Linked DNA regions of Homo sapiens: all the other regions are linked to region 3. The links come from fine-mapping of genetic effects on gene expression. A gene starts in region 3. Each other region holds a variant in brackets. All regions are shown on one strand. Distances are from middle to middle. Region 1 overlaps FCHSD2 (FCH and double SH3 domains 2). Region 2 overlaps FCHSD2 (FCH and double SH3 domains 2). Region 3 holds the start of ATG16L2 (autophagy related 16 like 2).

Evidence for each region. PIP is the estimated chance that this variant, and not a neighbour inherited with it, causes the effect.
Region 1: its variant is the best candidate, but not a certain one, in a credible set for the expression of ATG16L2 in whole blood (TOPMed, PIP 0.77).
Region 2: its variant is the best candidate, but not a certain one, in a credible set for the expression of ATG16L2 in whole blood (TOPMed, PIP 0.81).

What each region holds. Positions count from the first base shown.
Region 1 is chr11:72,998,227-73,003,455 of GRCh38, forward strand. It overlaps FCHSD2 (FCH and double SH3 domains 2), which reads right to left. Exons shown (of 20, transcript NM_014824.3): 5 at 2,764-2,908. Among named protein-coding and RNA genes, the nearest start is that of FCHSD2, 140 kb to the right of the region's middle. The variant T/C (reference allele first, on the strand shown) is at 2,344.
Region 2 is chr11:72,911,929-72,917,157 of GRCh38, forward strand. All of the region lies in intron 9 of FCHSD2 (FCH and double SH3 domains 2), which reads right to left. Among named protein-coding and RNA genes, the nearest start is that of ATG16L2, 100 kb to the left of the region's middle. The variant C/T (reference allele first, on the strand shown) is at 2,381.
Region 3 is chr11:72,811,755-72,816,964 of GRCh38, forward strand. ATG16L2 (autophagy related 16 like 2) reads left to right here and starts at 2,657. Exons shown (of 18, transcript NM_033388.2): 1 at 2,657-2,809; 2 at 4,974-5,073. The coding sequence starts at 2,692. It overlaps LOC107984421 (a long non-coding RNA gene), which reads right to left and starts at 2,313. Exons shown (of 3, transcript XR_007062771.1): 1 at 879-2,313. RefSeq lists enhancers at 920-979, 1,140-1,269, 3,280-3,429 and silencers at 1,810-1,899, 2,300-2,749.

The DNA.
Region 1 (5,229 bases), 190 kb after region 3:
AATTCAAGGTAGATTGTAGTAAGTTAATTTGGACCAGGCGAGGTGGCTCATGCCTGTAATCCCCGCACTTTTGGAGGCTGAGGCAGGCAGATCACTTGAGGTCAGGAGTTCAGGACCAGCCTGGCCAACATGGTGAAACCCTGTCTCTACTAAAAATACAATAAAATTAGCCAGGTGTGGTGGCACACGCCTGTAATCCCAGCCACTCAGGAGACTGGGGTGGGAGGATCACCTGAGCCCAAGAGGCAGAGGTTGCTGTGAGCGAGATCATGCCACTGCACTCCAGCCTGGGTGACAGAGCGAGACTCTGTCTCAAAAAAAAAAAGTTAATTTGGAACAAGGATTGGGGAATAGTAAGATTAATGATTCAAGGTAATGTAATAAGTTAGGGAGGGATATTATAATCTCTAAGGTAATTACTAAAAGAATATAGGATTTAAAAAGTAAGAAGCTAATAGTGGAGGAAAAAATTGATAATAAAAAATATTAGATTGCTTAATATCACCAACCATCAGTGAAATACAGATCAAAGCCACAATAAAATATTAATTACCTCACACCTGTTAGGTGGCTATTATTCTTTAAAAGGATAACAGATGTTGGCAAGGCTGTAGAGAAATTGGAGCCCTTGTGCACTGTTGGTGGGAATGCCAAATGATGCAGCTGCTATGCAAAACAATTCTGGTCATTTGGGAAAATGAAAAATCTGGGATTGCTACCTTTAAGATTTATAAATCTGGCACATTGGGGGTCACCATGTGGAGAGAGTTGTTAGTGAGTGAAGCCATTCAGAAAAGCAGAGCTAATGGATGGAAAGAAAGTCTGAATTCTAATACCATCATTTGAACCCCTAGATCCACCCATGCTTGAAGTCCTTCAATTTTCAGTTATACAAGCAGATACATTCCCTTCTTGGCTTAAAGCAGTTTGAAGGAGGTTTCTTTCATTTGCTATCTCAGAGTCCTGACAGGTATACCCAATATGTACTGAATATTTAACAATTGCTTAGATGTAACATAGATCATCAGCAATAATATAAAACAAGTTAATTCACAGACATGAGCATTTGTTGAATCTTACCAAAGATTCTTTTTTTTTTTTTTTTTTTTTTGAGATAGAGTCTCACTCTGTCACCCAGGCTGGAGGGCAGTGGCACGATCTCAGCTCACTGCAATCTCCACCTCCCGGGTTCAAGCAATTCTCCTGTCTCAGCCTCCCGAGTAGCTGGAACTACAGGTGCACGCCACCACACCTGGCTAATTTTTGTATTTTTAGTAGAGATGGGGTTTCACCATATTGGTCAGGCTGGTCTTGAATTCCTGACCTCAGGTGATCCACCCGGCTTGGCCATCCAAAGTGCTGGGATTACAGGCGTGAGCCACCACACCCGGCCTTATCAAACATTCTTTGCCCAGGAATGTCAGTTAAATTCAGGTCTGAGATTACTTCATCAATGGAAGAGAAAAGCACCAGAGGTAGTTAAACTCTCTAAATATTCTGATATTGAGTAAGGTGGCAGTAATTCAATTAGATCTGATGAATGCACTGGAAATTTGAAATGCAGTATTTCCTCCTGGTTGGGAAGTTATACTAGTATTAATTCTCTGCCCCTACCTTACACCCTCTTTCTGCACAATCAGACACACACACACACACACACAAACACACACACACACACACTTTCTTCCAACTCAAAATCACTGGCCAGTGATCACATAGGTTACTCACTATGTTTGTTTTGAAAGAGATATTTTTTGGCAAAGATAAAACACAGGCATTCTTATACAAATATGTTTAACTGACTAATATTAGGTGAGTGCTCTAAAGAAATTAACATTTTACATAAAGACACATATACATCTAACATATTGATTTCATGCTACTAGAATCATCTTTGGCAAACGGAAAATTGGGGGGTTTTTGGTGGGAAAGGTGTTTGTAAAAATGTTCTGAAAATCCTAATGACAATTAGAATCAAAACACTGGATGGCTTCTAAAATATTATTTCCCGAAATAATTACTTTAATATTTTCTTTCTTTTACTTTAATATTTTCTAAAGTATTAATACTTCCACAAGAAAATTTTAATTACTTATTAGGTATAATGATAATCTCAATTTTTGTAACTCTATTTCCAAAAGAACACAATTCAATCACCTATTTTCAACAGCCAACTTTTCTAAAAAGTCACATTAAGCAATGCCATTTTCCTATGAATTTTTTATTTCTGTGTAATAAAATATGTCCATTTGAAAACATTTACTCATGTGTAACCCATATAATTAAAGTTTAGAGTCCATCAGGTTTTTTAAAGTAAGTTTTTTATGTTTAGTCAAAATGTGT[T/C]AATTTCCTTTAAATTATTATACAAAATGGGTCAAGTTGAAAGTAAGACAAATTAATGTAAACTTTTTTCAAGAACTAGTGGGATTAATAACCTTGTAACTATTCTAATACACATCAAACTATACCGATATTGTGAAACTAAGTAGATCTATGTACTTGAATTATGCCGAAAAGCGGTATTACTAAAAAGTATTTACTGAGCTTTTTGAACGTCCATGGATTTGAATTACATTCATTTTTAGCAGTTAATAAAACATAGTACTTAATGAGAACATGTTGAAATCAGAAAATCCTAGTAAAATGTCAACCAGAAACATATGGGACCATATAGTTTTAAATAAAATTTAGCATAACCTTGCAGATTATAAATGTAGCACTGGGATATTAAAATGCATATAAGAACAGAAATAAAAACAATACCCTTTTTAGTTGCTGTTCTTTTAAGCTTCTCACTGTCCTTGCAGGCTCAGAAATGAAGTTTTTATAGTTTTCACATATATTCATCCGAGACTGGGCTACCTGCATTGTTCCCTCGAGAAAAGATTTCCAAACGGGATACATGCTCCTAAATTCAAAGAGGGATAGAAAAGCATTAGGCAGGGAACAGGAAGAAAAAGTTGGCTAACCTTTTGCTCACAGGGCAGCACTGACAGAATAAATGAATGTCTTCTTTAATGTATTTATAATGGCTTATAGGCAATATGTCAGCACACATAACAAGCAACATGGCATATACTCTATTCTTCTTATAGCTCAGCAATAGGGAGTTCTGATTCATTAGTTATTCTTAATAATGGAGTAAAGTGCTACAAGAATTACAAAGCTAACACTATAAAAATTAGTGAATATTTCAGACTCTCCAAGTCTTTTGCTGTCACAGGGCCATAATTATGAATATCAAGTTTTATTACTTCATTAAGTTATTTTCCTAATTTTAGTAATAAGGTAACTGAGGCCCAGAGAGATTTTAGAGTATCACTTTAGGTCATATAAGAAGAAGGTGGCACTACTGAGATACAAGACGAAGATTGGGTACCTGTATATATAGTACATTGTCTTTCAACGACATCATTTTACTCTTATATAAACTGACGCGGCTGGAAAAATATATCATGAACAACTGTTGATGTGCTTGCAAAGTCTATTTTGTCTGACAAAAGAAATCTATAATAGTGTGGCTCTACATCTGTCTCCCTGTTACAACAATGCTTAGCATCACACTGTGCTTTGGATTCATTCCAAGCAAGTGCCATCACCTTTGCTTGATAAATGTGCTCAGCAATCTCAGTCAAGTCAAAGAATTATTAATCCTTTGCTTTTTCTAGCCAACTTCCTCTTCAACCTTCTTTCCTACTTGCTAAATGCCTTAGTCAATTCTAGCATGCTCCTACACTATTTATAAACACAATCGATAATTTATAACAATGGCAATGCTTTATTTTTTAAAATGAGTCCTTAAAGTGAAATTCTGATAGATTATAATATTCATCTCCTGAGATTTCCCTTTTGTGGGAAATCCATATCGATTTTCAACCACAGCAACATGTGGGACTAAATGCTATACAGAATGCTCACTGTGGTCAACAGATGACAGTGTAGAAGCAAGAAAAAGAAAAATTGCCTGGGTCCCTATCTTAGTTAGAAGTAAAGGAAAAAACTTGATAAACTATGGTTTTCAACCATGGAGTCTTACAAATTTGTTCATGTAATATACCAGATGAATCGGTTTAGATGGAAATAGTCATTATTTAGGCAGAGGTGTATCACTATTCCTTTGGAAAGATTCAATGTGTTGCACCAGCAAAAACTGTCAGCATAAAAGCACTGATGAAGTTAAGAGCAGCAAAACGAATGCTCTCCATGGCCTCACTGCATGACAACCAATGGAACTTGCAATGTAAACTCACCACAGGCTCTCCCTCCTAAGCAGTCCCAACAATTGATTTTCTTGAAGAATGTACTGAGAGAAAAATTCAGTACTATGATTTGTAACTATTAATTTATACTTAAAATACATTTTAAAATAATAAAAAAAATGAAAAAGAACCATTATAAATTGTGATAGGAAGAAAGAGAGGAAGGGAGATACCCTTCATCCATGTTCTTCTCTCAGTGTAACACCCTCTTCTCTTTATCCCTTCTCCTAGTTAATAGCTGTTTGCCCTTCCAGTCTCAGTTTAAATGTAACTTCCTTTGGGAAGTCTTTCACCGTCACCACCAAGCCAACCCCCAAACTCAATCAAGTTATTCTTTGTTAGTTGTTCTTGGTTCCAGCACTTTTCTTTTAATTATAAATATTTTAATGTAATTGTTTATTAACATCTGTCCCTCTCACTATAGTGAAAGCTCCATGAAGGCAGGGGTGTATGTCTTGCTATTGCAAGGACCTAGCAAATAAAGAATGGTTACAATAATATATGTTGAAGGAGTAAATAAATGAATGGATGAATGTATTAACTATGAAGACTGTACAATAAAAAGACAAATCCTTTCATTAAAAAGATAGTTTAAAAAGAGACCTTTAGAGTTTAGCAGATTTATAGCAGGGAAACATATCCTGAACACTGATATACCATGAAAAGCACAGAATTCAGTCACCAGTCAGAAGACCTAAGTTCAAGTTCTAGTTTTAACAAAATAATCATAAGTAGCACACTTCACTATACTTTCATTTCCTCAACTGGCAAATGGAGAAATAACAAAAATACCTGCACCACTTACCTCACAGGGCTATTTTAAAAATTAAATGCAAATGATATGAAAATTCATGATACACAGATTCTTTTAAATGAATACATAGTAACAGCAGCAGAATTGTAACAAATAGAAGCACTTCTTGTTAACATAATAGTGGTACTCCCAATGGTAGTGGTGTTTTTCATTCCA
Region 2 (5,229 bases), 100 kb after region 3:
TTTCTTGATTTATTTTTCAGAATGCTTACTGTTCACATATAGAAATGCTACTTATTTTTGTATGTTGATTTTGTATCCTGCAACTTTACTAAAGGTGTTTATCAGTTTGAATATTTTGGTGGAGTCTTCAGGTTTTTCAAAATATAAGCCTACATCATCTGCAAAGAATAATAATTTGACTTCTTCCTTTCCACTTTGGATGCTCTTTCTTTCTTTTGTCTGACTGCTGTAGCTAGGACTTCCAGTACTATGTTGAACAACAGTGGTAAAAGTGGGCATCCTTGTCATGTTCCAAATCTTAGAGGAAACGCATTCAGTTTTTCTCCATTCAATATGATACTCATTGTGGGTCTGTTATACATGGCTTTTATTGTATTGAGATATGTTCCCTCTATACCCAGTTTATTGAGGGGTTTTATCATAAGGGGAGGTTAAATTTTATCAAATGCTTTTTCAGTATCAATTGAAATGATCATATAGTTTTTGCCCTTCACACAGAGTGATTTGTGTATGTTGAACCATCCCTGCATTCTTGGGATACATTCCACTTGGTCATGATGAATAATCTTTTTAATGCGTTGTTGAATTCAGTTTGCTAGTATTTTGTTGAGGATTTTTGCATTAATGTTCATCAGGGATACTGGCTTGTAGTTTTTATTTTTTGATGTGTCTTTGTCTGATTTTGGTATCAGGGTAATGCTGGCCTTAGAGAATGAGATGGGAAGTATTCCCCCCTCCTCTATTTTTTGGAATTGGTTGAGTAAAATTGGTATTAGTTATTCTTTAAATGTTTGATAAAATTCAGCAGCAAAGCCACCCAGTCCCAGGCTTTTCCTTGCTGAGAGACTTTCTATTACAGCTTTGATCTTGTTACTTGTTTTTTCATCTCTTCAGGTTTTGAATTTCTTCATGGCTCAATCTTGGTAGGTGTATTAGTCCATTCTCACATTGCTATAATGAACTACCTGAGACTGGGTAATTTATAAAGAAAAACAGTTTAATTGACCCATGGTTCTGCAGGCTGTACAGGAAGCATGGCTGGGGAGGCTTCCGGACACTTACAATCATGGCAGAAGGCAAAGGGGAAGCAGCTTTGTCTTACGTGGCAGGAGCAGGAGGAAAAGAGAGAAGGGGGAGGTGCTACACACTTTTAAACAACCAGATCTCATGAGGACTCACTCACTACCAAGAGAACAGCAAGGGGGAACTCCATCCCCGTGATTTAATTACCTCCCACTGGCCCCTCCTCCAACATTGGGGATTATTATAATTTGATGAGATTTGGGTGGGGACACAAATCCAAACCATATTGGTAGGTTGCATGCATCTAGGAATTTATCCATTTTTTTTCTTTTTTTGAGACAGAGTCTCAGTCTGTTGCCCAGGATGAAGTGCAGCAGTGCAATCCTGACTCACTGCAAACTCTGCCTCCCAGGTTCAAATGATTTTCACACCTCAGCCTCCCGAGCAGCTGGGATTTCAGGCATGTGCCACCACACTTGGATAATTTTTGTATTTTTAGTAGAGACAGGGTTTCGCCATGTTGGCCAGGCTGATCGCGAACTCCTGGCCTCAAGTGATCCACCCACCTTGGCCTCCCAAAGTGCTGTGATTACATGTGTGAGCCATCACACCCAGCCCTATTTATCCATTTCTTCTGGGTTTTCCAATTTATTGGCATATATTGTTCACAGTAGCCTCTAATGGTCCTTTGAATTTCTGTGGTATTGGTTGTAATGTCTCCTTTTTCACTTCTGATTTTATTTATTTGGTTATTCTCTTTTTTTCCTCACTAGTCTGGCTAAAGGTTTGCTGATTTTCAACAGTCAAGCCGAGAGCCAAATTACTAATGGACTCCCTTTCACAACTGATATACAAAAAAACCAAAAAAAACCCAAAAAAAAAACAAAAAAAAAAACCCTAGAAATACAGCTAACAAGGGAATTGAAGGACCTCTAAAAGGAGAACTACAAATCACTGCTGCTCAAATAAATTAGAGATGATACAAACAAATGAAAAAACATACTATGCTCATGGACAGGAAAAATCAATATCATAAAAATGGCCATACTGCCTTAAGCTATTTATTTATTTATTTATTTATTTCAGAAGGAGTCTCACTGTCGCCCAGGCTAGAGTGCAGTGGCATAATCTCAGCTCGCTGCAAACTGCGCTTCCTGGGTTCAAGTGATTCTCCTGCCTCAGCCTCCCGAGCAGCTGGGACTACAGACATGTGCCACCACTCCTGGCTAATTTTTGTATTTTTAGTGGAGATGGGGTTTCACCATGTTGGCCAGACTGATCTTGAACTCCTGACCTAAAGTGATCTGCCCACCGTGGCCTCCCAAAGTGCTGGGATTACAGGTGTGAGTCAGGTGCC[C/T]AGCCTGCCCTAAGCAATTTATAGATTCAATGCTATTCCCATTGAACTACCATTGACATTCTTTGCAGAACTAGAAAAAACTATTTTAAAATTCATATGAAACCAAAAGATTCTGAATAGCCAAGGCAATCCTAAGCAAAAAGAACAAAGCTAGAGGCATCACGCTACCCAACTTCAAACTATACCACAGGGCCACAGCAACCAAACAGCATGGTACTAGTACAACAGACACATAGACCAATGAAACAGAATAGAGAACCCAGAAATAAGACCGCACACCTAAAACCACCTGATCTTCAACAAACCTGACAAAAAGCAATGGGGAAAGGATTCCCTATTTAATAAATGGTGCTGGGATAACTGGCTAGCCATATGCAGAAAATTGAAACTGGACCCCTTCCTTACACCATATACAAAAGTCAACTCAAGATGGACTAAAGACTTAAATGTAAAACCCGAAACTATAAAAACCCTAGAGGAAAACCTAGGCAATACCATTCAGGACATAGGCATGGGCAAAGATTTCATGATGAAGATGCCAAAAGCAATTGCAACAAAAGCAAAAATTGACAAATGGGATCTAATAAAACTTAAGAGCTTCTGCACAGCAAAATAAACTATCAACGGAATAAAAAGGCATCCTACAGAATGGGAATTTTTTTTTTTTTTTTTTTTGCAAACTAAGCATCTGACAAAGGTCTAATACCCAGCATCTATAAGGAACTTAAACAAGTTTACAAGAAAGAAACAAACAACTTCATTCAAAAGTGGGCAAACGACATGAACAGACACTTCTGAAAATAAGACATACATGTGGCCAGCAATCATATGAAAAAAACTCAACATCACTGATCATTACAGAAATGCAAATCAAAACCACCATGAGATACCATCTCACACCAATAAGAATGGTTATCAATAAAAAATTAAAAAAACAACGGATGCTGGCAAGGTTGTGGAGAAAAAGGAACACTTTTACACTGTTGGTAGGAGTGTAAATTAGTTCAACCATCGTGGAAGACAGGGTGGCAATTCCTCAAAGACCTAGAGACAGAAAAACCATTTGACCCAGCAATCCCGTTACTGAGTATAACCCCAAAGGAATATACATTGTTCTATTATAAAGACATATGCCTGCTTATGTTCATTGCAGCACCATTCACAATAGCAGAGACATGGAACAAACCTAAATGCCCACCAATGATAGACTGGATATAGAAAATGTGGTACATGGTCGGGCGTGGTGGCTCATGCCTGTAACCCCAGCACTTTGGCCAAGGTGGGTGGATCACCTGAGGTCAGGAGTTCAAAACCAGCCTGGCCAACAAGGCAAAACCCCAGCTCTACAAAAATACAAAAATTAGCCGGGCGCGGTGGTGGGCGCCTATAATCCCAGCTACTCGGGAGGCTGAGGCAGGAGAATCGCTTGAACCTGGGAGGCAGAGGTTGCAGTGAGCCGAGATCACGCCATTGCTCTCCAGCCTGGGTGACAGAGCAAGACTCTGCCTCAAAAACAAAAAACAAAAAGAAAAGAAAAGAAAATGTGGTACATATACACCACAGAACACTATGCAGCCATAAAAAAGAATGAGATCGTGTCCTTTGCAGGAACATGAATGGAGCTGGAGGCCACTATCCTTAGCAAACTAATGTAGGAACAGAAAAGCAAATACCACATGTTCTCATTTGTAAGTGGGAGCTAAATTATGAGAACACATGGGAACAACGCACACTAGGGCCTACCAGAGGGTAGAGGGTGGAGGGTGGGAGGAGGGAGAGAATCAGGAAAAATAACTAATGGGTACTAGGCTTAATACGTGGGTGATAAAATAATGTGTACCAAACCCTCCATGACACAAGTTTACCTACATAATCTGCACATCCTGCACATGTACCCCTGAAATTAAAATTAAAGGGAAAAAAAGGTTTATCAATTTTGTTAATCTTTTCAAAAAACTAGCTTTTAATTTCATTGACCTTTTGGTACACAACTTTTTTTTTTTTTTTTTTTTTTTTAAAGAGACAGGGTCTTGCTCTGTCACCCAGGCTACAGTACAGTAGTAGCATGATCATAGCCTGCTGCAGCTTCCAATTCCTGGGCTCAAGTAATCCTCCCACTTGGGCCTCCCGAGTAGTTGGGACAACAGGTATGCAGCACCATGTCTGGCTAATTTAAAAAATTTTTTTGTAGAGATAGGGTCTTGCTATGTTGCCTAGGCTGCTCTTGAACTCCTCAGCTCAAGCAATTCCCCCACCTTGGCCTTCCAAAGTATTGGGATTACAAGCGTGAGCCACTGTGCCCAGCCTCCTTTGTTCACTTTTATATTGGGTTGTCTCTGATGTTGAGTTGTAAGAGTTCTTTGTATATTCTGAATATGAAACTTTTATCAGATATGTGATGTGCAAATATTTTCTCTCATCATTTGGGTTGATTTCACATTCTTAATAATGTCCTTTGATGCACAAAAGCTTTTAATTTGATACAGTCTAATTATCTATGTTTTCTTTCGTTACTTGTGCTTTCAACGTCAAATCTGAGAATGCACTGCCAAATCAAGGTCATAAAGATCTATCTCTGTTTTCTCTTATAAGTTAGGTCATTGATCAATTTTGAGTTAATTTTGTGAGGTAAGGGTTCACAACTTCATTGAACTTCATTCTTTTTTTTTTTTTTTTTTTTTTTTTTTTTTTTTTGAAGCAGAGTGTTGCTCTGTCGCCCAGGCTGGAGTGCAGTGGTACGATCTCAGCTCACTGCAACCTCCACCTTTCGGGTTCAAGCGATTCTCCTGCCTCAGCCTCCCAAGCAGCTGGGACTACAGGCACCCACCACCACGCCCAGCCAATTTTTG
Region 3 (5,210 bases):
ACCAGCCTGGGCAACATAGTGAGACCTTGTCTTTACAAGAAAAATTTAAAATGAGCTGGGCGGCTGGGCACGGTGACTCACACCTGTAGTCCCAGCACTTTGGGAGGCTTGAGGCGGGTGGATCACTTGAGGTCAGGAGCTGGAGATCAGCCTGGCCAACATGGTGAAACCCTGTCTCTACTAAAAGTACAAAAATTAGCTGGGTGTGGTGACGCATGCCTGTAATCCCACCTATTCGGAAGGCGGATGCATGAGAATCGCTTGAACCCGGGAGGAGGCGGTTGCAATGAACCGAGATTGTGCCACTGCACTCCAGCCTGGGTAACAGAGACTCTGTCTCAAAAAACAAAACAAAACAAAACAACAACAAAACCAGCGATAGTGGCATGTGCCTGTAGTCTCAGCTACTCGGGAGACTGAGGTGGAAGAATCATTTAATCCCAGGAGGATGAGGCTGCAGTGAGCCATGATTGGGCCACTGCACTCCAGCCTGGGCAACAGAGAGAGACCCTGTCTCAAAAACAAAACAGAACAAAAAAAGTGAAGTACTTTAGGTCCCCAGATTATGGTATAACATTTTTTTATATTTATTGGTCAAATCATATATCTCTTACATAAATAATTTGAGATACATTAAACAGCAAGTTAAATGTAAAAAGCAGAAATTTGTCTCCATATATTATCTAAAATTTTATTTCAAGTGATCTTTATAATACAATCTTTCATATTCTAAAAATAGAACATGAATATTTTTAGTCAAAATCAATCACTTCTTTATCATATACTACTCAAAAATGACTATTTATTTAACATTTCCTAGGTGTATTTTGTGAGTCAAAAAAGGATTAGGAAACCCCTGCCCCAATATGGCTCCTTACCTGAGAGAAACGGCATCTCTGCACCTCACAGCCAGGCCAAGCCCTGTTAATATACTCTCCCATGCACACAGCCAGAGTTCCTTATTTATATAGTGTCTCCAAGCACCCAAGAGTCCGCCAGTTCTAAAGGGAATTCATCACTGTCATCAGCTGGCCCTGGGTCTCCATGGGTACTGTGCCTGTCTCCTGGGCATGGCTTTTGCTGAACGTTACCACCCATCTTCAACACAAATACTCCTTCAAGAGACAGGTCAGGCCTGGTTTGGGGCTAGAGGTACAGAGACATCTAGGACCCAGGTCCTGCCCTAAGGGGCACCGCACAGATTACAGGATGGTGTGATAACTGGTGACGGTTATAACTCGAACTCAACTGGGGCTGGTGTCTGAGAAGCTTGAACTCAGTGTAGGGGCAGGAAAGTTCTCCTGGAGGAGGTGATGCATGATTAGGAGCCAGGCCCCCTAGAGGCGACGATGTTCCAAACATCAGGCTCGGCCTGTGCAAAGGCCATGGGCGTCTAAGACAATGACATGTGGGGGACTGAGCCCAGCTCACTGGAAGCAGAGCAGGCTACACTGACCTGGGGGCGTCTAGGCCTTCACTGCTTTCTACGTCCTCTGACCCATCCCCATCAGAATCTCAACAGACTCGTCACCTCCAGGGCCTGCACTGCTCTCCCATCGTTGCCCAACTTCTCTCGTTCCCTAGGGATGTTCAAGTCTGCCAACACTCAGAGGGCAGGGCCTGCTGGCATGCCCCAGGGTGAGGCTGTGCCCAGCGAGTCCCTCCTTTCGTGTCTCACAGTAGCCTGAGCCTGCAGAGCTGGCTCTCTAGCATCTAGCTAGAGACGGTTTGACCACAGTTCCCTGCGACCCATGATTCACTTTCGAGGGTACCCACAAGAGATGTGTCTGCTCCTCCAGACGCCGCCCAATGGGGTGAAGCGTCTGGCCCTGAGTCAGGATGCTGGGGTGCTGGCCGTCTCAGCTACCCACTCCTTTGCAACCCCAGGCAAGCAAGCTCGTTCTCTCCTCCCGGCCAGGGGCTTTCTAGATGAAATCAGCTGCACCCCTTTACTCTCAGGGACCTAAAATTTCGGCGACCATGTGGAGCCGTAAACCCTTCTGCCTCCTGTCCTCCCAGCCCCGCACCCACCTGGCGTTTTCGTGTCACGGAACCTCTGCACGTGCTCTTCTCGAGGCCTAGAGTCCCTCTCTCCCTCTGGCCAACTCCTATTTCATCCCTCACAGACCCAACTCGAACGCCATCATCCCCGGAAAGCGGGGATTCCTCCCTTCAGTCTCTGCTTCCTTATCTTGCTGTCCTGCTGCGCCGCGCCCTCAGTGTACGCGCAGAGCCCGGGGCTGAGGGCCTCTGGGTCCCTGGCTGGGTGCGCGGCCAGGAGCGCGACGGCCTGGGAAGCACCAGCGGCTCTCGAACTCGGCCCGGGCGCGGCGGGGTTAAGACACCCGGGCCTTGAGGGCCCCGCCTCCGGAGCGCTCCACCCGCGTGGGGGAAGCCTCCCCGGAGGCTCCGACCTCGCTCCTGCTTATGACCCTCGCAGCCACAGGAGCCCCCACTTAGGTGAACATTTCGGACGGGGCCCCGGCGGTTCAGACCCGGAGGCGGCTCCTCCCGGAGGCAGATCCTCCCGGCGTCGGCCTTCGGTCCTCCCCGCCAAAGCCCTCTTGGGACAAGCCGGGGATTCCCCGCCGCCGCCCGCCCCCTGGCGTCACGGAGTCCCCGCGAGGCCCCGCCCCGGCCTGGCGCCGTCCTGGGCGGGAGGAACGCGCCGCTAGGCGGGAGAGCGCGGCCATGGCGGGGCCGGGCGTCCCCGGTGCCCCCGCAGCGCGCTGGAAACGCCACATCGTGCGGCAGCTGCGGCTTCGGGACCGTACGCAAAAGGCGCTTTTCCTGGAGCTGGTGCCGGCCTGTGAGTGCGCCCCGGTGCTGAGAGGATGGCGGCTGAGGGGACGCGGCTACGGGCGCGGGGAGAGGGTTTGGCTGGCTCCTCCGCCTGTGACCCGAGTGCGCTGTGCCTTATGCCTTGAGCCTGTGCGTTACGCCCATCCCGACTGCCAGGACTCCGCCCCTTGCCATCCAGGCTCTGGTTAGAACCTGGACGAGCCCCTCCTGGTCCCCCTGCCCTCGTCGCCCCTCAGGACGGGCTCTGCCTCCCACAAGCTGGGCTTCCGAGACGCAAGTGCGTCCTCGGGTGTTGGTTTTGCAGGGTCTCTTTTGCCTCCCCACCCGGGCAGTCCCCGGGGTAGGGGCTTGATCAGTGCACTTAGTCTCGGTAGCGCAGTGAAAGAACGCGGGACTTGTCCAGAGCAGCCACTTATTGGCCCATCCGGAGAGGGGCGACACTCGGAACCTCTAAGGAGGAGGCTGTGCATCTCAGGCTCTGCCGCTGACAGGCGACGCTGGCACAGGCTTATGGAACACCTCCCTGTCAGCCTACCCAGCCTGAGGGGGCATCAGGGGGCCCCGGGCTGCTGGTGGATGCTGGCTGAGCCCAGCGAAGTCGGACTCTCAGAATTGTTTCTGGGCAGCTGGTCAGGATAGGGTGTGGCATTTCAAGAGGGGATGAACAGGTGTGCCTGTGTGTCGCACCTCTGGCCGCCTGCGATTGTATGTCTGTGGTTGGAAGTCTAACCACAATCCCTGCGGCTCTCTCACTGGGGCTAATCTTGGCCAAACCCCCACAATCAAATCTGCTCTTAGCCAGGAAAATTTCTCTGCAAGCTTCCAGGCTGCTGGTCCTCTACCTTCAGGGTTGCGAGGCCAGCCCCCACCTCCAGCAGCCACACTTCTCCACTGCTCAGACAGACAGTGGAACCGTCCAGTTTGAGGGAGGGGGTCACCGCCCCCCCAACCCCTGCCCCCCGCCCCGACCCAGGGAGCTGTGAGTCTGAGGGACTAGAGAGATCTGGAGGGCTGAAATCAGACTGAAGGGCCAGTCTTGAAACCTTGGGCAGATCACATCGCTAAGCCTCAGTCTTCTTACTTGTTAATTGGGTATAGAGACCTTCTTTAGGTTTGCTGGGTGCTGCAGTACCCTGGGGGCTGAGGTGGGGTTTTCATGAGAACTAGGCCAGGCCCAGGGCCTCAGTCAAGGTGACAGGGCACTGAGTGTGGGAAGGAAGTTGATGAGGAGGGAGCTAGGCCCGGACTTACCACCCCACCCTCCCCTGGAACTGGTGAGAAAAGAGGAAGTGACTGTTGATGGGGGAGGGTGTTCCAGGGTCAAACCACCAACCTCCAGAATGTCGGCTGGATAATTGCTCAAGGACTTTCTATTCTGGCCTGGGGGTACCTTACACCAGGGCTGGGGAAGTTGGGATTATTTATTTATTTATTTATTTGAGATGGAGTCTTTGCTCTGTTGCCCAGGCTGGAGTGCAGTGGTGTGATCTCCGCTCACTGCAAGCTCTGCCTCCCAAGTTCACGCCTGTCTCCCGTCTCAGCCTCCCGAGTAGCTGGGACTACAGGCGCCTGCCACCACGCCTGGCTAATTTTTTGTATTTTTTAGTAGAGATGGGGGTTTCACCGTGTTAGCCAGGATGGTCTCGATCTCCTGACCTCGTGATCCGCCCGCCTCGGCCTCCCAGAGCGCTGGGAATTCAGGTGTGAGCCACCGCGCCCGGCTGGGGATTATTTTTAAGTGCAGAAAGCTAGAGCCCTTGGAGGGGAAGTGACTTGCCAAAGGCCATTGACAGGTAGAGCTCGGTTTATTTCATCACTTTCTGGGGCTAAGCCTTGCTCTGAGGCAGGGATGAATCAATCCCAGGCCCCTTCCTTCCCTCAGGACCCTCAGCGGGCAGTACCCCGCAGTGGTCATCCTTCTGTCCCTGGGAGAGCAGGTCCTCTTCCACGTGGGCCTGGGGACCGGTGCTATGAGGACACTGCTAGGGCTGAAGGTCCTGTAGAACTGCACAGATGCCCCTCAGGCACAGGGCAGAGGCCAGCCTGCCAGAAGCTTCCCCATCCCTAGCATCTCTGGGCTCCTTCAGCCCTTTTAGCCGGAGATAAATTGCATGCCAGGGGGCTGCTGGGTATCTGTCTCTGCCCCAGGCTCACTCTCTTGCACTCTCCAGATAACCATCTCTTAGAGAAGGCTGAGCTGCTGGACAAGTTCTCAAAGAAGCTGCAGCCGGAGCCAAACAGTGTCACTCCCACCACCCACCAGGGCCCCTGGTAAGTGTATGTGGGTCCGTGGTCACAAAGGGCTGCCTGTGCTGGGGCCCTGCCCCTGCTGCCTGTGCTGGGTTCATTCTCTCCCTAGTGCCTCATCAGCCCTTGGCTGCTGCCCAGGGGTGGTGGGGGTGGTGGAG